Linked DNA regions of Homo sapiens: regions 1 and 3 are each linked to region 2. The links come from fine-mapping of genetic effects on gene expression. A gene starts in region 2. Each other region holds a variant in brackets. All regions are shown on one strand. Distances are from middle to middle.

Region 1 (8,176 bases), 20 kb before region 2:
TCAAGCTCCCTCTGCACGCTTTATGCAGATCCTCAAAACCCTCCTGTGAGGATCGCTGGAGCCTAGGAGTTCGAGGCTGCAGTGAGCTATGATTGTGCCTCTGCCCTCCAGCCTGGGTGAGAAAGCGAGAAGTTGTGTTAAAAACAAAAAAAAAGTTGGGGGGCCGGGCGCGGTGGCTCACGTCTGTAATCCCAGCACTTTGGGAGGCCGAGGCGGGCGGATCACGAGGTCAGGAGTTCAAGACCAGTCTAGCCAACATGGTGAAACCCTGTCTCTACTAAAAATACAAAAATTAGCCGGGCGTGGTGGTGGGCGCCTGTAATCCCAGCTACTCGGGAGGCTGAGGCAGGAGAATCGCTTGAAACCGGAAGGCAGAGGTTGCAGTGAGCCATCATGCCACTGCACTCCAGCCTGGGCAACAAGAGCGAAACCCTGTCTCAAAAAAAAAAAAAAAATTATCCTTTGAGATCCCTTCCCCCAAGTCCATTTCCCATCTCATGGTGAACCTGGCTGCTGTTCTTCAAACACACCACACTGTCCCTGCCCCAGAACCTTTGCACCTGCTATTCCCATCATCCGCAATGCTGTGCCTTGCAAGCTATTGTACTCCTTCCTCCTTCCCTTCCCCAGCTGGGAGAGGCCCCTGCTTTACTTCCTTGTGGTATCCCCACTTAGGGTGCTTTCTTTCTGGTTCTCTTCTGGTACCGAGGAATGATCCTCATTCTGGATTTGGCAGGTTGCTTCCTCTCTCCCCATCCCTGCCCCAATGTTTACCCTATAAATGGCTTAGAACCACATGCTCTATTGGAATAAGGGTCAGTTGCAGCCAGAATAATATCATGCTGGTAGGGCCGGGTACTTCCTGGTACATCACATCAGGGGGTCCATAACGTCATGTCACTACGATTGATGGGTGGGTTTGGGGAATGTCCCTGGTCCCCAGTAACTCTCCACATAAAGATGTTAACAGGAGCTGGGCCCAGTGGCTCACGCCTGTAGTTCCCAGCACTTTGGGAGGCCAAGGCAGGAGGATCACTTAGGCCCAGGAGTTTGAGACCAGCCTGGGCAACATAGCAAAACCCTGTCTCTACTAAAAATAAAATAAAGACCGGGCACGGTGGCTCATACCTGTAATCCCAGCACTTTGGGAGGCTGAGATGGGCGGATCACTTGAGGTCAGGAGTTCAAGACCAGCCTGGCCAACATGATGAAACCCCGTCTCTACCAAAAAACCAAAAATTAACCAGGCGTGGTGGTGCACACCTGTTATCCCAGCTACTCAGGAAGCTGAGGTAGGAGAATAACTTGAATCCAGGAGGCGGAGGTTGCAGTGAGCTGAGATCATGCCATTGCACTCCAGCCTGGGTGACAGAGTAAGACTCTGTCTCAAAAAATAAATAAATAAAATACAACAAAATAAAATAATTAGCCAGATGTGGCAGCAATTGCTTGTAGTCCCAGCTACATGGGAGGCTGAGGTGGGAAGATCACTTGAGTCCAAGAGGTTGAGGCTGCACTGAGTTATGATCTCGGCACTGCACTCCAGTTTGGGCGATAGAGTGAGACCCTGTCTCATAAAAAATAAAAATAAAAAAGGAAAGAAAAGAAAAAAAGTCATTAGCAGCCATCAATTTTGTTGTTGTTATTGTTTGTTTGTTTGTTTTTGAGATAGAGTTTCGCTCTTGTTGCCCAGGCTGGAGTGCAGTGATGCAATCTTGGCTCACTGCAATCTCCACCTCCAGGGTTCAATCAATTCTCCTGCCTCAGCCTCCCAAGAAGCTGGGACTACAAGCATGAGCCACCATGCCAGGCTAATTTTTGTATTTTTAGTAGAGACGGGGTCTCACCATGGTGGCCAAGCTGGTCTTGAACTCCTGACCTCAAATGATTCACCTGCCTCATCCTCCTAAAGTGCTGGGATTACAGGCATCAGCCACCGTGCCTGGCCCGCCATCCATTTTTGATTCATTACTCTCTTGAGGATTATGTCCAACTTTATCATTCCTGCTACTGGAATTAGCTGTGGTTCTTCTGAAAAAGGCTTTCTGCTTCCCTCCGGAACTAGCTGGTTTGTACAGAAAGTGACAACGTGATACATTGACTTATGTATTATTTGTGGAATGCCTTGAGGCAAGCGGTTACATGAGCTCAGCAGAAGAGCCTGGAATGGGCACAGCCCTGAGGGTCACGTGTGGCTCCCTTGGAAGCATCTAGGGAGCACCCAGGAACGATTGGCTGCCATAGTAATTACTATCTAATTTATTAGATATAGTAAAAATAAATTTATTACTAATTATCACTAACGATTCTGATTACTGGGTGAGAACAATGGTGATCTCATGTATTTATGTGCATTACAGGGTGAGAGTTCTCCTTCCTGTGGCGTGCAGGAGATTCTAGAATAGAAACTCATTGAAAGAGTGAGAGGAAAACATTTGTGATCTTGAACCTGTTCCGCTTAAAAATACATGAGGGAGGCCGAGTGCGGTGGCTCACGCCTGTAATCCCAGCACTTTGGGAGGCCGAGTTGGGTGGATCACCTGAGGTCAGGAATTCGAGACCAGCCTGGCCAACACGGTGAAACCTCGTCACTACTAAAAATACAAAAATTAGCCAGGCATGGTGGCGGGCACCTGTAATCCCAGCTACTCGGGAGGCTGAGGCAGGAGAATCACTTGAACCCAGGGAGTGGAGGTTGCAGTGGGCCGAGATCATGCCACTGCACTCCAGCCTGGGTGGTACAGCAAGACTCTGTCTCAAAATAAGTAAATAGATAAATCGATTAATAAAAAATACATGAGAGGACGGGTGCAGTGGCTCATGCTGGTAATCCCAGCACTCTGGGAGGCCGAGGTGAAAGGATCATCTAAAGCTGGGAGTTTGAGACCAGCCTGGGCAATATAGCAAGACCCCTGCCTCTACAAAAAATGTAGCTGCACCTGGTGGCACACACCCAGCTACTTGGGAGGCTGAGGCAGGAAGATCACTTGAGTCTGGGAGGTGGAGGCTACAGTGAGCTGTGATTGCACCACTGCACTCCAGCCTGGGTGACAGAGCAAGACCTCATCTCCAAAAAAAACACAAATAACAAAAACGTGAGGGTCCAGAGAAATTAAAGCTGCGGGCTGGGCCAGCAGCAGTGGTGGTGGGATGGTGAAGCCAGCGACCCTAGCAGAGAAATCGGGGACAAAGGAATCAGTGCTGGAGACCTGCAGAGGAGGCGTCCTGGACCCAGACAGGAAAAGGAGGTGATGTAACTCAACGAAGCAAGGAAATCTCGTGGAAATGAGTAAGGTGACAAAGAGAGGCCACCCAGGGG[G/A]AGACCCAGACATTGAGGGTAGCTTCCCTTTTATTTTCTGTAAAGTTGCTCAAAAACCTTAAAACACAGTTGACCAACAGCTGCTGCCAAGAACATTGTGAAAAGGTTTCTGGGTAAGGAAATGGCCCTGCGAATGGGAAGGTTCCGCTCTGGTGGGATCAGAGATGAGGTGTCCAGGGCTGGGATAGGCAGGCCAGGATAGCAAAGCCCTGGCAGACAGAGGCTCCATTTTGGGTGTCCTTCATTCCCTTCTTTTTTTTTTGAGGCGGAGTCTCGCCCTGTTACCTAGGCTGGAGTGCAGTGGCGCGATCTCGGCTCGCTGCAGCCTCTGCCTCCCGGGTTCAAGTGATTCTCCTGCCTCAGCCTCCCAAGCAGCTGGCATTACAGGCATGTGCCACCACGCCCGGCTAATTTTTGTATTTTTAGCAGAGACAGGCTTTTTCCATGTTGCCTAGGCAAATCTCGAACTCCTAATCAAGCAGTCCACCCGCCCTCAGCCTCCTTCATTCACTTCTGAGATGATTCAGTTTCTGTCTCTGTTGGCAGCTGGGAAAGTTCTGAAAAAAGAATGAAGAGCAGTCCAGGCGTGGTGGCTCGCAACTGTAATCCCAGCACTTTGGGAGGCTGAGGTGGGCAGATCACCTGAGCTTGGGAGTTGGAGACCAGCCTGACCAAAAAGGTGAAACCTCACCTCTACTAAAAATACAAAAATTAGCTGGAAATGGTGGTGGATGTCTGTAATCCCAGCTACTCAGGAGGCTGAGGCAGGAGAATCGCTTGAGCCTGGGAGGCAGAGGTTGCAGTGAGCTGAGATTGTCCCACTGCCCTGCAGCTTGGGTGACAGAGTGAGACTCTGTCTCAAAAAAAAAAAAAAGAAAAAGAAAAAGTAAAGACAATGGCATCAGACAAATTCTGGCTCTGAAATCTAGGCTAGCTGGCCTGGTGACTTTTTTTTTTTTTTTTTCATAGAGATGGGGTCTTGCTATGTTGCCCAGGCCGGGTTTTGAATTTTTGGCCTCAAGCCATCCTCCTGCCTCAGCTTCCCAAAGTGCTGGGAATATAGGTGCCCCACTTTTTTTTTTTTTTTTTGAGACAGAGTCTCATTCTGTCACCCAGGCTGGAGTGCAGTGGCGCAATCTTGGCTCACTGCAAACTCCACCTCCCAGATTCAAGCGATTCTCCCACCTCAGCCTCCCGAGTAGCTGGGATTACAGGTGCCCACCATCACACCCAGCTAAGTTTTGTACTTTTGGTAGAGACAGGGTTTCACCATATTGGCCAGGTTGGCCTCGAACTCCTGACGCCAGATGATCTGCCCGCCTCGGCCTCCCAAAGTGCTAGGATTACAGACATAAGCCACCGTGCCCTGCCCTTTTTTTTTTTTTTTTAAGAGTCTCTGTCTGTCACTTAGGCTGGAGTGCAGTGGTGCAATCATAGCTCACTGCAGCCACAAACTCCCGGGCTGAAGCAATAGATCCTCCCCCTTCGGCCTCCTAAGTAGTGGCTGGGATTACACGGGCATGCCACCACACCCAGCTAATTTTTAAAAAGTTTTTGTAAAGACGGGGGTTTTCCTGTGTTGCCCAGGCTGAACTCAAACTCTTGAGCTCAACGGATCCTCCTGCCTTGGTCTCCCAAGGAGCTGGGATTATAGGCGTGAGCCACTGTGCCTGGCCCTGGTGACCTTTTGACAGTAGCCCCGCCTTCCCCAGCGTGGGTTTTGCCCTCTGTAATGTTGCGTAGGGCTGTTGCGATCACAGAAGGTGGTGGAGTGTGAGTACTTCTGGGGTACTTGCCGGAGGCTGGGGATTTGTGGAGGTGTGTGGCTCAGTTTTATTCCAGGAAACCGTGGCCAGACGGGCCTGTCAGCACCTTCCCTTTCATCTACAGTTCCTCAATTGGGGGGGTGTGAGTTGTTTCATAAGCCCCTCCCCCTCATTTCTTGCAGGAAAGTGGTAATGCAAAGAAACTTTTATTTTATCCACATCTATATTCTTTGTAACCTTTTAAAATAAGATACTTGGCCTGGCGCCTGTAACCCCAGCATTTTGGCAGGCTGAGGCAGGCAGATCACTTGAGTTCAGGAGTTCAAGACCAGCCTGGCCAACAGGGTGAAACCCCACCTCTACTAAAAATACAAAAATAAGCTGGGCACGGTGGCGCACGCCTGTAATCCCAGCACTTTTGGAGGCCAAGGCGGGCAGATCACCTGAGTTCGAGAGTTTGACACCAGCCTGACCAACGTGGAGAAACCCCCGTCTCTAATAAAAATACAAAGTTAGCCGGGCGTGGTGGCGCACGCCTGTGATCCCAGCTACTCGGGAGGCTGAGGCATGAGAATTGCTTGCACTCGGGAGGTGGAGGTTGCAGTGAGCCGAGAGGGTTAGGGTTAGGGTTCAGGAGGAAGGAAAAACCTAGGGTGTTTAGCCCCGGAAATCTCTCTTTTGATGTTCACTGCCTCGAGGTTCTTGCTACCTCTTGCTCCAAGTCACAGCCTGGCCCCAGCAGGTCATGCCAGAGCCCCCAGCCTGTCCTCTGCCAAGCGGTGGTCCTGGCAGCTGCTTAGACTCCCACTCCGAAGCTGGATCATCTGTAGATGGGAAGTGTTTGCATAAATGGGGCCAAGGAGTGCTCTCCAGCTCTTTGGTAAAGAAGCCTGACAGCCGCCAAGGCTTTTACTTTTATTTTCCATCCTTCACCCGGGAGGGGAAGCAAGTATCACTGTGTTCTGATTTGGCAGAGCCACCTGTCATTGCAACTTGTCACCAGGGCAACAAGTCACCATCTTAGTAAGGCAGCCAATGAGAAGCATGGGTTTCCTCTGGTGGTCGGTTTCACAGAACGGCAACAGTTTCTAGGCATCCGAGTGATACCAGAACTCTTTGTTCAAATAAGGCTTCAAGGACAGATGTATAGTGACAGAGAGGAGAACAAGCTGGTAGCAATTATGAATTTTCACAAGGAAAACTAGTTGTGGGGAGCAGAAAAATCCTCTCTGTGGCTTCAGGAACAAAGAGGCCATTTCCCTTGGGTCTTTAGGAAACCCCTTTTTTCCAACTATAATTTATTTTATTATTATTTTTTGAGATGGAGTTTCGCTCTTGTTGCCCAGGTTGGAGCACAATGGTGCGATCTCGGCTCACTGCAACCTCTGCCTCCCGGGTTCAAGCGATTCTCCTGTCTTAGCCTCCCGATTAGCTGGGATTACAGGCGTCTGCCACAATGTCCGGCTGATTTTTGTATTTTTAGTTGAGACAGGGTTTCAGCATGTTGGCCAGGCTGGTCTGGAACTCCTGACCTCAGGTGAACTTCCCCCCTCGGCCTCCCAAAGTGCTGGGTTACAGGCGTGAGCCACCGTGCCCAGCCCAGCGATAATTTAAATTACAAGTATTTGGCCCGGCATTAGTGGTGCATGCCTGTAATCTCTGCACTTTGGGAGGTCAAAGACCAAGGATCCTGGCAACATATGAGACCCTGTCTCTACAAAGAAGAATCAATTTTTTCAATTAACTGTGGGTGGTGGTGGGTGCCTGTAGTCCTAGCTACTCAGGAGGCTGAGGCAGGAGGATCGCTTGAGCCCAGGAGTTGGAGGATGCAGTGAGCTCTGATGGCACCACTGCACCCCGGCGTGGGAGATCGAGACAGAGTGAGACGCCATCTCTAAAAAATAATAATAAATAAATAAATACGTATTTGGTGGTGATGGTTACAAGATCGTGTGCAGAATTTTAGTGTATATAAATGCCACCTTAATAAAAACTGATTTTTAGAAAATAATTCTTGGGAAAACCAAAACGTGCAGCAGGCAGGTAGACACATTTGTCAAAATGCATCAAACTCAGTAACAGCAGACCAAAGACTGCCTGTTCTCACTTATAAGTGGGATCTAAACTTCAGGTACTCATGGACATAAAGGTGGCAATAATGAACAGTGGGGATTGCCAGGGAGGGGTGAGGAAAAGGGGCATGAGGGTTGAAAATCTAACTGTTGAGTGCTGTGCTCACCATCTGGGTGACAGAGTCGCTCATACCCCAAACCTCAGCATCATGCAATATACTCAGGTAGGAGACTGGCACAGGTATCCCCTGAATCTAAAATAAAAGTTGATAAAGAGGGTCCCGGGCGCGGCGGCTCACAACTGTAATCCCAGCACTTTGGGAGGCCAAGGCGGGCAGGTCGCTTTGAGGCCAGGAGTTCGAGACCAGCCTGGGCAACATGGTGAAACCCCGTCTCCACTAAAAATACAAAAATTAGATGGGCGTGGTGGCGGGCACCTGTAATCCCAGCTACTTGGGAGGCTGATGCAGGAGAATCGCTTGAACCCGGGAGGCGGAGGTTGCAGTGAGCTGAGGTCGCACCGCTGCACTCCAGTTTGGGCAACAGAGCGAGACTCCGTCTCAAAAAAATGAAAAAATAAATAAAAGTTGATAAAGAGGGCTGGCCATGGTGGCTTATGCCTGTAATTCCAGCACTTTGGGAGGCCAAGGCAGGCAGATCACTTGAGGCCAGGAGTTTGAGACCAGCCTGGGCAACATGGTGAAACCCCATCTCTATGAAAAATACAAAAATTAGTTGGGCGTGGTGGTGTGTGCCTGTGGTCCCAGCACTTTGGGAGGCCGAAGTGGGTGGATCACTTGAGGTCAAGAGTTCGAGACCAACCTGGCCAACATGGAGAAACCCTGTCTCTACTAAAAATACAAAAATTAGCTGGGTGTAGTGGCGCGTGCCTGTGGTCCCACCTACTCAGGAGGCTGAGGCAGGAGAATTGCTTGAACCCGAGAGGCGAAGGTTGCAGTGAGCCGAGATTGTGCCACTGCACGCCAACCTGGGCAACAGAGTGAGACCCTGTCTCAAAA
Region 2 (8,160 bases):
CCCACCACTCACCTCCTGCTGTGAGGCCCCGTTCCCAATGCCCGGTGGCTGGGGACCCCTGTTCTAGTGGGCAAAAGCCTCAGCATCCCCCGCCTCAGCTCCCTGGGGCACAAATTCAGGTGATTCGGGGTCCAGTTCTACAGGAAGCCTGACCCAGGAGTCTTGCCATCCAGTCCCTGATTTCCCACCACAGACTTCAGAATTCCTAGCACCTAGTCTTGAAAGGGATCCCAGACTCAAATGTCACACCTGGACAACAGATGATAGAGTGAGGTTCTGGTTTGCAGGATGTTTTGGACTCTCCTCCCACTGCCACCCACCCCCTGTGATGGTCCCAGCCCCCTGTCTGATGCTGGTGGCCATGAGCAGAGATTACAACCACTTCTGGTGCCAGGGACCCCACCCAGACTCCAGCCCAGGGATTCCCTTCCCAGACCCTCTCTCCTGACTCCACAGTGGTCATGGGGGTAGGGCAGGACCACTGAGTTAGAAGCATGGCCAGGGCCAGAGAGGGTGAGTCTAGTGCCTTGTGTGTGTCCCTGCCCCTTACTGCTGTGTGTGTGTGTTGGGGGCGGGGATGCTCCATTGTCCCCAGAACTATTTGTCTCCACCCCCATCCAATAGTCCTGTATCTGAAACCTAAGAGGGCTCTCTTCAGGTTCCTCAATTCCAACATAGACATTCTCCTGCCCCAGAGTGCAGACTTGGAGGTCATATCTGCCCAGGTGATGTGGACAGGCAAACCCCCTATTAGAGCCTCAATTTCCTCAATAGCTAATGCCTAGATCCCCTGTGGTAGGCAAGATATCCTCCTCCCTCCTCCCTCCTCCCTCCCTCCTTCCTCCTCCTCATCCTTCTCCTCCTCCTCCTTCTTCTTCTTCCTTTTTGAGATGGAGTCTCACTCTGTTGTCCAGGCTGGAGTGCAGTGGCACGATCTCAGCTCACTGCAACCTCCACCTCCAGGTTCAAGTGATTCTCCTGCTTCAGCCTCCTGAGTAGTTGGGATTGCAGGCGCCCACCACCACTCCTGGCTAATTTTTGTATTTTTAGTAGACACGGGGATTTCGCCATTTTGGCCAGGCTGGTCTCAAATTCCTGACCTTAAGTGATTCACCTGCCTCGGCCTTCCAAAGTGCTGGGATTACAGGCGTGGGCCACAGAGACCAGCCAAGGCAAGATTCTTCTGCTTGCAAGTACAACAGACCCCACTTCAAACTAGCTTGGGCAAAACTAAAAGGAAGTTTCTTGTTTGTGTAACTGACAAGCCCAGGGTTAGAACAACAGGTTCAGGTATGGCTTGGAACCAGGGTCTCAAATGATGTCTCCAGGACCCAGACTTCCTCTCGGGTCTGATTTTCTCAGCACTGCCTTTGCTCTCAAGTAAATTCTTCCCTGTCACAGCTCCCATTACATCCTCCCATTGTGGCAGCCCTAGTGAGGGCTGGAAAAAAAAGAGAATGCTTTTTCCCCCGTGGTTAAACCAATAAAAATCCCAGACCAGCGTTTCATTGGCTGGATCTTGCTCAAATGCCCGCCTCTCTGCCCAATCTTAGACTCTGGTTGGCTGGGTCTGGATCATTTGTCCACTGTAAACCAATCCCTAGCTTATGGTTTGCTGGATCTAGCACACATTTTCTTTCTTAAAAGAAAATTGAGAATGTTACCCTATGAAAGGGACGGGTGCTGGTCAGGCAGCTTTGCAGATGTTTCCCACATGACATGATTGCTTGTGGGCCTCTGGTTTAGCGTGACCTTTTTCTCAAAGGAAGTCCAGAGCCTGGAGCCGCGTCTCAGCCCCACCCAAGCCCGGGAAATGTGCAACGCTGTGGCTCCACCCCCTGTGCCTGTCCATCAAGGCAGAGCCCACATCCAATTGGTCCGTCTGCTCCATTAGAAGGCGGTCCTATAGCTCAGTAACTGACTTCTTTCTAAGACCAAATGGAGCAGCTGGCATGAAGTCATTATCAAATTGATCTTTCTTGGAGACACAGGATTTGGCAATATTTTAGGAAACAGAACTTTATCCTCACCAGATCTCGACGCTCATTTCTCAACATTCAAGTTGTCTGAAATTTAACCACATATTTTTAACCAAAACATCATCACTTTCTGCACATAAGACAGTCTTATACTTGTTTTTTCTTCTTTTCTTCTTCCTTCCTTCCTTCTTTCTTCTTTCTTCTTTTTTCTTTTTTTTTTTTTTTTTTTGACGGAGTTTTGCTCTTGTTGCCCAGGCTGGAGTGCAATGGCGCGATCTCGGCTCACTGCAACCTCCACCTCCCGGGTTCAAGTGATTCTCCTGTCTCAGCCTCCCGAGTGGCTGAGATTACAGGCGCCTGCCACCACGCCCAGTTAATTTTTGCATTTTTAGTAGAGACAGGGTTTTATCATATTGGTCAGGCTGGTGTCTCTAACTCCTGACCTCAGGTGATCCGCCCGCCTCAGACTCCCAAAGTGCTGTGATTACAGGCGTGAGCCACCACACCTGGCCAGAAAAAAATAAAAATAAAAATGTATGCCTGTAATCCCAGCACTTTGGGAGACCAAGGCTGGAGGATCAGTTGAACCCAGGAGATCAAGACCAGCCTGGACGGCATATTGAGACCCTCATCTCTACAAAAAATAAGAAAAATTAGACTGGGCCACGGTGGCTGATGCTTGTAATCCCAGCACTTTGGGAGGCCAAGGCGGGTAGATCACGTGAAGTCAGGAGTTCGAGACCAGCCTGACCAACATGGGGAAACCCCGTCTCTACTAAAAATACAAAATTAGCCGGGGGTGGTGGTGCATGCCTGTAATCCCAGCTACTTGGGAGGCTGAGGCAGGAGAATGACTTGAACCTGGGATGCGGAGGTTGCAGTGAGCTGAGATAGCGTCATTGCACTCCAGCCTGGGTGACAAGCACAAAACTCCATCTCAAAAAAGGAGAAAAATTAGCCAGGTGAAGTCGTGCCCACCTGTAATTTCAGCTACTCGGGAAGCCGAGGACGAAGGATTACTTGAGCCAGGGAGGTCAAAGCTGCAGTGAGCCATGATCACGCTGCTGCACCCCGGCCTGGGCAACAGAGTGAAACCCTGTCTCAAAAAAAAATTATTAAAAAACATTTAAAGAGACAGGGTCTTGCTATGTTGCTCACGCTGGTCTCAAACTCCTGGCCTCAAATGATCCTCCTACCTCAGCCTCCTGGGTAGCTGGGACTACAGAGCGAGCCACCATACCCAGCTACTTTGTGCCTTTTGTAACCCCAGTTTTCAAGATCAGATAAACACAAAGTGAACTAAGACACCTTCTAGACAGAGTGCGGGCATGTGAACGCATGCTTGTGTCTATTTTTCTGAGTGTCACAATGCAAATAGTATGCAAATGAGTTTGTGATGTGTGTCCGTGTGCAGACCTGTGTGTGTACATGTGTGAGAGAGAGTATCTGGGTAGATAAGCAGATGGATGGATGAGAATGAGAAACCTGGAGTTTCCAGGTGCAGAGGAAACTGTTCCTCCAGGGTTCTTTTTTGAGACAGAGTTTCCCTCTTGTCACCCATTCTGGAGTGCAATGGTGTGATCTCCGCTCACTGCAGCCTCCGCCTCCCAGGTTTAAGCGATTCTCCTGCCTCAGCCTCCTGAGTAGCTAGGATTACAGGCGCTCGCCACCACGCCCAGCTAATTTTTGTATTTTTAGTAGAGACGGGGTTTCACCATGTTAGCCAGGCTGGTTTCAAACTCCTGACCTCAGATGATCCACCCACCTCAGCCTCCCAGAGTGCTGGGATTACAGGCGTGAGCCACCGCACCCAGCCTCCTCCAGGGTTGTATAAAAGCAGGGGATTTGGGGAGGGAGGGAAGGATGTGGGTCTGTCCTCAGTCCCAGATGTGGGTGTGGCGTTCCAGTGGTTAGTTCCCGTTGCCTCACATCTGTGCTTTTCCTCCACGGGGACTTGTAGAAGTAGAAGAACTTCTTGGGGGTGGAGCTGAGGGGTGGAGCTGAGGCTGGAGGGAGGAAGGTGTGGGGGGACCCAGGGGTCCTGTCTCCAAGCCTGGTTGCTCTTACGCGAAAAGTTGGGACACTGAGGTGTCACAGCTTCTCTTTTGAAATGGAGAGGAGGTAGGAGGGTGAGGTCCATCCAGGTAGACACAGACACACACAGAGACCACAGCTTCCTGTAACATTTCCGAGTGTCGAATTCCATCTCCCGGTCTAGAGGTTTTTCTTCTTGGTCCTTCCTGAGACCTCTTGGCTCCCAAGAGCCTCTTGATCGGGGCAGGAATGAGGGTGCCCCAGGGTGCGAGAGTCGTGGATCCCTGAAAAGAGGAGGCTGCTCCCCCTCTTTCTTCCCCCCACCTCCAGATTTCCTCATCTGCCCACACCTTCCGGTGGGCGGGGACGTGTATGGACAAATTTGCGGGCTGGGGACCATGGAAGTGGAGGAAATCTACAAGCACCAGGAAGTCAAGATGCAAGCACCAGCCTTCAGGGACAAGAAACAGGGGGTCTCAGCCAAGAATCAAGGTTAGGGAACTCGAGGTGGAAGGGAGGGGTTAAGAAGGAGAGATTGGGGGGCCGGGGGCTTTTGCTCATGTCTGTAATCCTAGCACTTTGGGAGGCTGAGGCGGGAGGATTGCGTGAGCCCTGGAGGTGGAGACTGGCCTGGGCAACATAGGGAGACTCTGTCTGTAAAAAATAAAAATAAAAAAAGAAGGAGAGTTCAGATGGGAGAGGTAAGGGGTCAAAGGTGGGGGCCGGGGGCTCCTTCCCCTCCAAGATGTGTGGATGTGTGTGTGGATGTGTGTGTGGTGTGATCACTCAAACTCTCACACACCCGCTCCACTTAACCAAAAAGCAGATTTTAGCTTCTCACTCCTTATCTTTCACCCCCTACAATTTATTGAGTGCAAAGGGTTGGGTAAAACAAGATCCCGGATCCACTCTCCACACCACAGAGCTCTGAGCAGATCTCCAACCCCTCCCAGGTGCCCATGACCCAGACTATGAGAATATCACCTTGGCCTTCAAAAATCAGGACCATGCAAAGGGTGGTCATTCACGACCCACGAGCCAAGGTGAGCAGACACCCACCTGCTCACATCCCATCACCTTGGGAAGGGGCAGGTGGGCGGGCAACTGCAGGGCCCCCGGGGCTGCGTGGAAGGGAGGAAGCGATGGGGAAGGAAGAGGTGACAGCTGTTGACGTGCTAATGAGGTCTGTTGATGATGACAATGTTGGGGAATGCTGGAGAGGGGGTCTGTGATGGTGACGGTGTTAGATCGCTGAGGGTGGCTGGTGGTGGCAGTGTTGTTGACGATGATGACAAGCTGCATGACCACAGCTGCTGATGGTTTTGAGAGGAGCGAGGTGTCCATGGTGTTAGAGACAGTGAGGATGGTTTGAGTGGTGGTGCTGGCCCCTCAAGGTCACTTTGCTGCCTCTTTGCTCCAGTCCCAGCCCAGTGCAGGCCGCCCTCAGACTCCACCCAGGTCCCCTGCTGGTTGTACAGAGCCATCCTGAGCCTGTACATCCTCCTGGCCCTGGCCTTTGTCCTCTGCATCATCCTGTCAGCCTTCATCATGGTGAAGAGTGAGTACTTCTTGGGAGGAGGGTGCTGGGGGGCCTAGACTTTCTCCCTTGTCCTTCTCTCTCTCTCTCCCTGGGTGCTTCAAGGATTTTCCTGCCCCTCCTGAACAGATGCTGAGATGTCCAAGGAGCTGCTGGGCTTTAAAAGGGAGCTTTGGAATGGTGAGCGGAGGGTCTGAGGGAGACCCGTGGGGTCATGGTGGGGGTCTGGAGAGGGATGGATGCACAGACACCCCTGTTTCATGCCCTCAGTCTCAAACTCCGTACAAGCATGCGAAGAGAGACAGAAGAGAGGCTGGGATTCCGTTCAGCAGAGCATCACCATGGTCAGGAGCAAGATTGATAGATTAGAGACGACATTAGCAGGTGCCTGTGTAGTCTCGCCTTCTATGGGGGTTATTTGTCACCAATGCCCGGAGCTGAGCTGGGGGCAGGGGATTCAGGGGAGGAGAAAGCCGGGGTCCTACCCTCCCAAAGCTCAAGTTGTGGAGGGGCGATGGGTGTTACCATCTGGGTTGCTCTGTGGGTATTGAAAGGCTCCTGGGAACCCCAAATCCATGGGCTCTGCTGTACCCCAGGGTGGGTGTGGGGCAGGGGGGGTGCTTCCAAGGAAGGTGGGGGCTTTGTTTGAGGCTCCACCGCAGCTTGACTTATCTGTTCCCACCCAACCCTCCCCGCCCCCTAGGCATAAAAAACATTGACACAAAGGTACAGAAAATCTTGGAGGTGCTGCAGAAAATGCCACGTAAGTTGGCGCCCCGACAGGAGGTGGAGGAGGGTGGGTGGGGCTTCAGATTTAGCCCCAGCTCCTCTCCCAGGGGCGGGATCTGCCTCACTGTGGGTCTCTCCCCATCCCCAGAGTCCTCACCTCAATAAATGAGAGGACATTGTGGCAGCCAAAGCCACAACTTGGAAGATGGGGCTGCACCTGCCAACGAAGACGGGAAATGACCCCCCCCCCCCAGCCTAGTGTGAACCTGCCCCTCGTCCCACGTATAGAAAAACCTCGAGTCATGGTGAATGAGTGTCTCGGAGTTGCTCGTGTGTGTGTACACCTGCGTGCGTGTGTGTGCGTGTGTGCGCGTGTGTTCGTGTATGTGCGTGTGTGCGTGCGCGTGTGTGTGCATTTTGCAAAGGGTGGACATTTCAGTGTATCTCCCAGAAAGGTGATGAATGAATAGGACTGAGAGTCACAGTGAATGTGGCATGCATGCCTGTGTCATGTGACATATGTGAGTCTCGGCATGTCACGGTGGGTGGCTGTGTCTGAGCACCTCCAGCAGATGTCACTCTGAGTGTGGGTGTTGGTGACATGCATTGCACGGGCCTGTCTCCCTGTTTGTGTAAACATACTAGAGTATACTGCGGCGTGTTTTCTGTCTACCCATGTCATGGTGGGGGAGATTTATCTCCGTACATGTGGGTGTCGCCATGTGTGCCCTGTCACTATCTGTGGCTGGGTGAACGGCTGTGTCATTATGAGTGTGCCGAGTTATGCCACCCTGTGTGCTCAGGGCACATGCACACAGACATTTATCTCTGCACTCACATTTTGTGACTTATGAAGATAAATAAAGTCAAGGGAAAACAGCGTCGCTATGGGACCTGTTACTGGGGCAAGGGGAGGGGTTTTGGGACCTGGGGAGAGGGAGAGTCTGCACGTGACAATGACCCCGGGGCACCAGGGTGGGCGAGACTGAGTGCCCTGCGTGAGTACCTGTGCATCTGTGAATGAGTAACTCATTCCCTGTGTCTTCCCTGTGTCCCAGAGTGGGTGCCCCTGAGCATACAACATCTCCCTGAGTGTACCTGGGACCACGGATATATACAAGCCCTAAGCGTGTACCCACGTGTGTAATTGTGCCCGTGAGTGTATCTATGCCATTGAGCATGTATCCATGAGTGTACATGACCCTAAGGTACTATGTCCACCGCTCATGCATGCACTTGATTTGTTGTTGTTGTTGTTTGTTTTTGTTTTTTTGAGACAGGGTCTCGCTCTATCACCCAGGCTGGAGGGCAGTGGTACGATCATGACTCATTGCAGCCTCGACCTCCTGGGCTCAGGCGATCCTCTTGCCTCCGCCTCCCGAGTAGATGGGATTACAGGTTCACACCACCACACCTGGCTAATTTTTTTTAAAGAAGTGGGAGTCTAGCTATGTTGTCCAGGCTGGTCTCAAACTCCTGGCCTCAAGTGATTCTCCCACCTCCGCCTCCGAAAATGCTGGGGTTACAGGCGGGAGCCACCGCGGGCCACATGGATGCACTTGAGACAATTGAACCCATCCCCAAGGACATAGGAGTGCCTGGAAAAGCCAACAGGTGTGTCCATGTGCAAGGGTATACATTGGCCCATTGTCATACGTGCGCCCTGAGCAGGTGACTAGGCCTGCAAGCGTCCCCTCCAGCGTGGGCCACCCAGAGCCAGCGAGACCCTGGCCACGCGCGGAGCAGCCATCACGGCCGTGGGCCACGTCCCTGGGTCCGGCTCCGCGGACTCGCGCGCCCCCCTGCGGCCGCTCTCAGGCACCGCTGCGCGCGCCCCGCCCACACGCCTGGCCCGTCGAGCGCCTGCGCACGCAGCGCCTT
Region 3 (8,176 bases), 110 kb before region 2:
GCTCTCAGACCTCTGCTGACTTCAGAGAGTTCCCACCCTAGGATCTCCTCTGAGCCCCCAATGCACCACTGGGCCCCCCAGGGGCCCCAAGACTCTGTGGGCCCCCCCTAAGAGCCTCACCAGTGTCACCCCACAGGTGCTTGCCTTCCCAAGCTCTGGCTTCACTGACTTGGCAGAGATTGTGTCCCGGATTGAGCCCCCCACGAGCTATGTCTCTGATGGCTGTGCTGACGGTGAGGGGCCCAGGGGACCCCCCAAGAGGGAGGGGAGTGGCTGGAGATGGCAGGCCAGCCCCAATCCCCTCACCTGTGCCCTGCTCCCCGATTCCAGGAGAGGAGTCAGATTGTCTGACAGAGTATGAGGAGGACGCCGGACCCGACTGCTCGAGGGATGAAGGGGGGTCCCCCGAGGGCGCAAGCCCCAGCACTGCCTCCGAGATGGTGAGAGTGGGTGGCCCAGGGTCCCCTCACATCCCCCAGAGGGTCATGAGTACAGTGTCAGGCAGGGGAGCCGGGGGCGTATTTGAGATCCTGTGTGTGCTGGGTGCTGGCTGACATGTGACGCATCAGTGTCCCGTGCTGGGTGACGTGTGTGTGACCTTCCCTCGCAGGAGGAGGAGAAGTCGATTCTCCGGCAACGACGCTGTCTGCCCCAGGAGCCGCCCGGCTCAGCCACAGATGCCTGAGGACCTCGACAGGGGTCACCCCCTCCCTCCCACCCCTGGACTGGGCTGGGGGTGGCCCCGTGGGGGTAGCTCACTCCCCCTCCTGCTGCTATGCCTGTGACCCCCGCGGCCCACACACTGGACTGACCTGCCCTGAGCGGGGATGCAGTGTTGCACTGATGACTTGACCAGCCCCTCCCCCAATAAACTCGCCTCTTGGAAATGGCTTCCTGTCGTTTTCGGACTGGGGACCCACCTTCTGTGCTCAGGATGGCTGGGGCTGGGGTCTGACACCACCTGGTGCTTGCCCCCCACAGGGAATGCCTTTCTAGAATCCACACGGAGCCCCACTAGGTGCTTGTCCCCACTCTGCCCCTTCTCTGGCTCCTCAGAAGCCAGTGCTGACTCCGGACCACAGGGCCAGACATTCCGTGCCACCCTCCCGGGCTCACAGGTGCTCTTGGGGGCCCGATATGGCACCCCTCAATTTCTTTCTGTGTGTTTTTTGTTTTTTGTGTTTTTTTTTTTGAGATGGAGTCTCACTCTGTCACCCAGGCTGGAGGCTGGAGTGCAGTGGCATGATCTCTGCTCACTGCGACCTCCATCTCCCGGGTTCAAGCGATTCTCCTGCCTCAGCCTCCTGAGTAGCTGGGATTACAGGCGCCCGCCACCACACCCAGCTAAATTTTGTGGGGGGGTTTTTTGGTTTTGTTTTGTTTTTTGTTTTAATTTTTGAGACAGTGTCTCTCTCTGTCACCTAGGCTGGAGTGCAGTGATGCGATCTCAGCTTATTGCAGCCTCCAGCTCTTGGATTCAAGTGATTCTCATGCCTCAGCCTTCCAAGTAGCTGGGGCCACAGGCGAGCACCACCATGCCTGGCTAATTTTTGTATTTTTTGTAGAGAAGGGGTTTCACCATGTTGGCCAGTCTGGTCTCAAACTCCTGGCCTCAAGCCATCCACCTGCCTCAGCCTTCCAAAGTGCTGGGAATACAGGCATGTGCCACCACACCTGGCCTTAATTTTTGTATTTTTAGTAGAGACGGCATTTCATCACGTTGCCCAGGCTGGTCTCAAACTCCTGACCTGAAGTGATCTGCCCGCCTTGGCCTCCCAAAGTGTTGGGATTACAGGCATGAGCCTCCTTGACCGGCCAGAACGGTTTATCTTTTTTATGAGTGAATAATATCCCATTGTGTAGATGGACCACATGGTATTTATTGGTTCATCTGTTGGACGCTTGAGTTGCTTCCACCTTTTGGCTATGGGGAGTCATGCTGCTGTGAACACAGGTGTACAACTATCTGGATCCCTGCTTTCAACTTCCTTGGCTAGATGCCCGGGAGTGGAATTGTTGGGTTACATGGAGATTCTGTGTTGAATTGAAGAAACGCCAAACTTTTCCATAGCGGCTGCACCATTTTAAATTCCCACCGACTGTCAGTGCCTCGAGCTGTCAGCACCATGGACAGGGATGGTGCTGTCCGAGGTGCTACTGACGCCCCCTCTGTGTCTTTCCCTCCAAGCCCCCCCACCCCCGCCGATATCCCTGCGCCCTCCAGATCTCTGAGTTTTGAGGGTGGAGGGGGACATTTAGGGGAAAGTTCAGTCCATAGTTTGGCACCTACTGGTGTCTGTATCTTAACTGGCTCCCCTTCCATCCTGGCTCACAAGGCTCCAGTTGTACCAGCCTTCATTCTATTCCTCAAATTCTCCATCGATTCCTGGCTCAAAGCACAGAATTGGGCTTTTTACTCCCTGTGTAGCTGATTAAGCCTGTCCTCAATTGTCACCTCTTCGGACTGTGTACAGTAACTTCCCTGTTCCCGTTGGCCCCTGTCTCCTTGCCTTTAAAGCACTTCATTAGTCACAGTTGCTTCACTTGTTTTTATTGTTTTCATTGTTTATTATTACTATTATTATTATTATTATTATTATTATTATTATTATTATTATTATTATTATTTTGAGACAAGATCCCACTCTGTCACCCAGGCTGGAGTGCGGTGATGTGATCACGGCTTACTGCAGCTTTGACCTCCTGAGCTCAAGTGATCCTCCCACCTCAACCTCCCGAGTAACTGGGACTACAGGCGCGAGTCACCACATGCAGCTAGTTTTTTTTTTTTTTTTTTTGTAGATATGGGGGTCTCACCATATTGTCCAGGCTGGTCTCAAACTTCTGGGCTCAAGCGATCTACCTGTCTTGGCCTCCCAAAGTGATGGGATTACAGGTATAAAGTGTTGTTGGTGTTGTTGTTTTGTTTGTTTGTTTGTTTGTTTTTGAGACAGAGTTTCACTCTGTTGCCCAGGCTGGAGTGCAGTGGTGTCATCTCGGCTCACTGCAACCTCTGCCTCCCGGGTTCAAGCTATTCTCCTGCCTCAGCCTCCCAAGTAGCTGAGATTACAGGCAACCGCCACCACACCTGGCTAATTTTTGTATTTTTAATAGAGACGGGGTTTCACCATGTTGGCCAGGCTGGTCTCTAACTCCTGACCTCAGGTAATCTGCCTGCCTCAGCCTCCCAAAGTGCTGGGATTACAGGTGTGAGCCACCACACCCGGCCTAAAGTTTTTAATTAACTTTTTTTTTTTTAGAGACAGGATCTCACTCTGTTGCCTAGGCTGGAGTGCAGTAGTGAAGTCATAGCTCACTGCAGCTTCAACCTCCCAGGCTCAAGTGATGCTCCCACCTCAGCCTGCCAAGTAGCTGGGACTACAGGCAAGCACCACCACACCTGGATAATTTTTAAAAAAAAATTTTGGTAGAGACAAGGGTCTCGCTAGGTTGTCCAGGCTGTTCTCAAATTCCAGGGTTCAATTGATCCTTCTGCCTTGGCCATCCAAAGTGCTGGGATTACAGGCACGAGCCATCACATCAGGCCTCACTTGCTTACTTGTTTCTCATCTGTCTCTGCAAGACACACTTAAATATAAGTTCCATCACTGGAAGAACCTTGCATAGAACAGCACCTGGCTCATGGTAGGTGCTCAGTAAATGTCGAATGACATCAAGCTCCAAAGACGAAGCAAAGATCCCTGAGATAACTCCCACTCTCTCTCTTTCTCTCTG[ATTTTG/A]TTTTGTTTTATTTTGAGATAGGGTCTGGCTCTGTTGCCCACCCTGGAGTGCAGTGGCGCCATCTCAGCTCACTGCAACCACGCCCAGGCTTAAACCATCCTCCCACCTCATCCTCCCTGGTAGTTGGGACCACAGGCACATGCCACCACACCTGGCTTAATTTTTGTATTTTTGATGGAGACAAGGTTTTGCCATATTGCCCAGGCTGGTCTTGAACCTGGGCTCAAGCAATCCAACTGCCTCAGCCTCCCAGAGTGCTGGGATTACAGGCGTGAGCCACCTCACCCAGCCGACAATACGTTTTTGTTGCTGAAGTCACCCCATCTGTGGAACTTTGTGACAGTGAATCCTAGCAAATTAACATAGAAGCCCTTGGCTAGACTCAGCTGCCATGATGTGGATGGTGTAATGGATCAGGCAGGACAAGTCAGGTTATGCCGCTGTAACAAATAACACCAAAGTCTTGGGGGGCAAAAACAATACAAAAGTAATTTCTGAGCTGGGTGCAGTGGCTCATGCCTATAGTCCCAGCTACTTGGGAGGCTGAGGCAGGAGGATTGCTTGAGCCCAGGAGTTTGAGACCAGCCTGGGAAACATAGCAAGACCTCATCTCTAAAAAACTTTTTAAAATCAGCTGAGCATAGTGGCATGCACCTGTAGTCTCGGCTATTTGCGAGGTCGAAGCAGGAGAATCGCTTGAGCCCAAGAATTCGAGGCTGCAGTGAGCTATGATTTCACCACTGCACTCCAGCCTGGGCGACAGAGTGAGACTGTCTCTAAAACAAAAGTAGTCACTATCTGGAATGTTTTGGGTCACTGTGACTGAGGAAAGACATCTCTGGAAGGCCTCATACCCATCATTAAATACTCTGGTCCAGAAATGATGCAATACTTTTATCTCACTGCTCATTGGCTAGAAAAAGTCACATGGTCCTACCCAACTGTAAGTGGCCAGGAAAAAACAGCCCTACCATGTGCCCAGAAGAGAGAGCATTGGAAATATTTGGTGATCATCACTAATGATCAACAGGCTGGGCTGCAGTAGCTCACGCCTGTAATCCAAGCACTTTGAGAGGCCGAGGCGAGTGGATTGCTTGAGCTCAGTAGTTCGACATCAGCCTGGGCAACATGGCAAAACCCCATCTCTATCAGAAATACAAAAAATTAGCCAGGCATGGTGGTGTGAGCCCGAAATCCCAGATCCTAGGGAGGCTGAGGTAGGAGGATCACTTGAGCCAAGGGAGGTCTAGGCTGCAGTGAGCCATGATCATGCCACTGCACTCCAGCCTGGGCAATAGGGCGAGACCCTGTCTCAAAAAATTAAAATAAAAACAAACAAAAAACAAACTATTGACTAACAGAGTTGGAACTGAGCCTCAACTGGACCTTCCTGGACTCTCTAGGCTACCCCTCTCTGGTTCCAGAGCTTGAGACTCAGCTAGCGCCAAGAAATTTTGAGGTTACAGTGAGGACCTGGGTTCAGGGTCAGGGGCCCTGTCCTGCAATCCACAGGAGCTGGCCACGAGGTGTGGACCCAAGAGACTGATAAAGTCACATTCTCAAGAGTGTTTTCTTGGTCTCTCTCTCTCTGTCTCTCTCTGTCTCTCTCTGTCTGTCTCTCTGTCTCTCTCTCCCCCTCTCCCTCTCCCTCTCCTCTTTTTCTTTCTTTCTTTGACAGAGTCTCTATCTGTCACCCAGGCTGGAGTGCAGTTGTGTGATCTCGCCTTAGCGCAACCTCCACCTCCTGGGCTCAAGTGATTCTCCCACCTCAGCTTCCTGAATAGCTGAGATTATAGGTGCATGCCACCATGCCCAGCTAATTTTCTTTTTAATTCTTAGTAGAGATGGGGTTTTGCCATGTTGGCCAAGCTGATCTTGAACTCCTGACCTCAAGAAATCTGCCTGCCTTGGCCTCCCAAAATGCTGGGATTACAGGCATGAGCCACCGCACCCAGCCTCTTGGTGTGTTTGTTGCCCAGTGTCTGGAAATGGCCATGTAGAGGTTGGACAGGGAAGAACCAACCTGGTCAGGCTGTAGGACATCTTTTGGCCACCCAGGCCAAGTGCAGTGGCTCATACTTGTAATCCCAACACTTTGGGAGGCCAAAGCAGGAGGATCGCTTGAGGCCAGGGGTTCAAGACCAGCCTGGGTGACATAGTGAGACTCTGACTCTATGAAAAATATTAAAAGTAGCTGAGTGTGAGGGTGGGCTTCTGTAGTCCCAGCTACTTGGGAAGCTGAAGTTAGAAGATCGCTTGAGCCCAGGAGTTAGAGGCTGCAGTGAGCTATAATTGCACCACTGCACTCCAGCCTGGGCAACAGAGTAAAACCTTTTATAAAAATAATATTAATAATAAGTTTAGGCCAGGCACAGTGGCTCATGCCTGTAATCTCAGTACTTTGGGAGGCCAAGGCAGGTAGGTCACTTGATGCCAGGAGTTGGAGACCAGCCTGGCCAACATGGTGAAACCCCTTCTCTACTAAAAATACAAAATAGCTGGATGTGGTGGTGCGTGCCTGTAATCCCAGCTTCTTGCGAGGCTGAGGCACGAGAATTGCTTGAACCTGGGAGGCAGAGATTACAATGAGCCGAGATCATGCCACTACGCTCCAGCCTGGGTGACAGAATAAGCCTCTATCTCAAAAAATAAATAAACAAATTAAAAAAAATAAGAGGCTGGGCATGGCGGCTCACACCTGTAATCCCAGCACTTTGGGAGGCTAAGGCAGGAGGATTGCTTGAGCCCAGGAGTTTGAGGCTGCAGTGATCTATTATCACACCACTACACTCCAGCCTGGGTGACAGAGCAAGACCCTATCTCTGAAACAAAAATAATAACAAAAAAAGCAAAAAACAGGGAATTTTCCTTTCCTTCTTTATTGCCAGAAAGGAAAAAAAAAATCAGGGTCCTACATTTGCACAGATTGGCAGGTTCTGCCCATTGCTAGCCAGCTGACCTTGGGCTTCCCTTCCCCCATTCTCAAATTTGTCACCTGTGTATTCTACCTAATTTTAGTCCCAGTGGGTTGCTTTGTAATTTATCTTTATTTTTATTTTTTTGAGATGGAGTTTTGTTCTTGTTGCCCAGGCTTGAGTGCAATGGCATGATCTTGGCTCACCACAACCTCCGTCTCAGCTCACCGCAACCTCTGCCTCTGGAGTTAAAGCGATTCTCCTGCCTCAGCCTCCCGAGTAGCAGGGATTGCAGGCATGTGCCGCCACACTTGGCTAATTTTGTATTTTTAGTAGAGACAGGGTTTCTACATGTTGGTGAGGCTGGTCTTGAACTCCCGACCTCAGACGATCTTCCCACTTTGGCCTCCCAAACTGCTGGGATTACAGGCGTGAGCCACCATGCCCGACCTGTGATCTAAATAAAAGGAAACAGGCTGGGCGTGGTGGCTCACACCTGTAATCCCAGCACTTTGGGGGGCCAAAGTGGGAGGATCGCTTGACGTCAGGAGTTCGAAACCAGCCTGGGTAACATAGTGAGACCCCCCCCCCCGTCTCTAATAAAGAATAATACATTAATAAAATAAAATAGGCCAGGCACGGTGGCTCACGCCTGTAATCCCAGCACTTCGAGAGGCCAAGACGGGTGGGATCACCTGAGGTCAGGAGTTCGAGACCAGCCTGGCCAACATGGTGAAACCCCGTCTTTACTAAAAATACAAAAATTAGCTGGGCGTGGAGACGCACGCCTGTAATCCCAGCTACTCAGGAGGCTGAGGCAGGAGAATCGCTCGAACCCAGGAGGCAGAGGTTGCAGTGAGCTAAGATCGTGCCACTGCGCTCCAGCCTGGGCGACAGAGCAGGACACCGTCTCAAAAAAATTAATAATAAAATAAAACTAAGATAAAACAAAACAGAGCTCCTTGCAGGAGGAAACTGACGCACACACCTACCTGGACCAGATTCTTACTTTTCTGCCACCAGGGGGCGGTCCTGCTATGGCGTTCAGGCGTCTGGCTCCGGGGTGGAGCTTTGCTGACTAGGGGAGGGTTAAGCACCGAGTAGCTGTGGGCTGACTTACTGCTTTTTTTTTTTTTTTTTTTGTCGTTTAGAATTAACATTTATTGGAAAGGAGGGGAGGGGAGGGAGTACTGTTCTCATTATAAAATCATTACCTGTGTGCTTCAGCCAGGTGCAGTGGCTCATGCCTGTAATCCCAGCACTTTGGGAGGCTGAGGCAGGTGGATCACTTGAGGTCAGGAGTTCGAGACCAGCCTGGACAAGAAGATGAAACCCCGTATCTACTAAAAATACAAAAAATTTAGCCGGGCGTGGTGGTGGTCGCCTGTAATCCCAGCTACTCGGGAGGCTGAGGCAGGAGAATCACTTGAACCCAGGAGGTGGAGGTTGCAGTGATCTGAGATCACACCACTGCACTCCAGCCTGGGCAACAGAGTGAGACTCCATCTCAAACAAACAAA

What was found.
Region 1: its variant is fine-mapped to the expression of MCEMP1 in whole blood (TOPMed, PIP above 0.99).
Region 3: its variant is fine-mapped to the expression of MCEMP1 in whole blood (INTERVAL, PIP above 0.99).

The regions. Positions count from the first base shown.
Region 1 is chr19:7,652,477-7,660,652 of GRCh38, forward strand. No RefSeq gene overlaps it. Among named protein-coding and RNA genes, the nearest start is that of RETN, 12 kb to the right of the region's middle. RefSeq lists an enhancer at 5,676-5,795. The variant G/A (reference allele first, on the strand shown) is at 3,320.
Region 2 is chr19:7,672,671-7,680,830 of GRCh38, forward strand. MCEMP1 (mast cell expressed membrane protein 1) reads left to right here and starts at 4,420. Exons shown (of 7, transcript NM_174918.3): 1 at 4,420-4,505; 2 at 4,967-5,056; 3 at 5,434-5,571; 4 at 5,680-5,730; 5 at 5,821-5,934; 6 at 6,254-6,313; 7 at 6,428-7,159. The coding sequence starts at 4,451. The coding sequence ends at 6,444. RefSeq lists an enhancer at 5,387-5,456 and a silencer at 7,868-8,160.
Region 3 is chr19:7,560,878-7,569,053 of GRCh38, forward strand. PNPLA6 (patatin like domain 6, lysophospholipase) reads left to right here. Exons shown (of 32, transcript NM_001166114.2): 30 at 137-233; 31 at 331-440; 32 at 611-887. The coding sequence ends at 685. Among named protein-coding and RNA genes, the nearest start is that of PNPLA6, 29 kb to the left of the region's middle. The variant ATTTTG/A (reference allele first, on the strand shown) is at 3,736.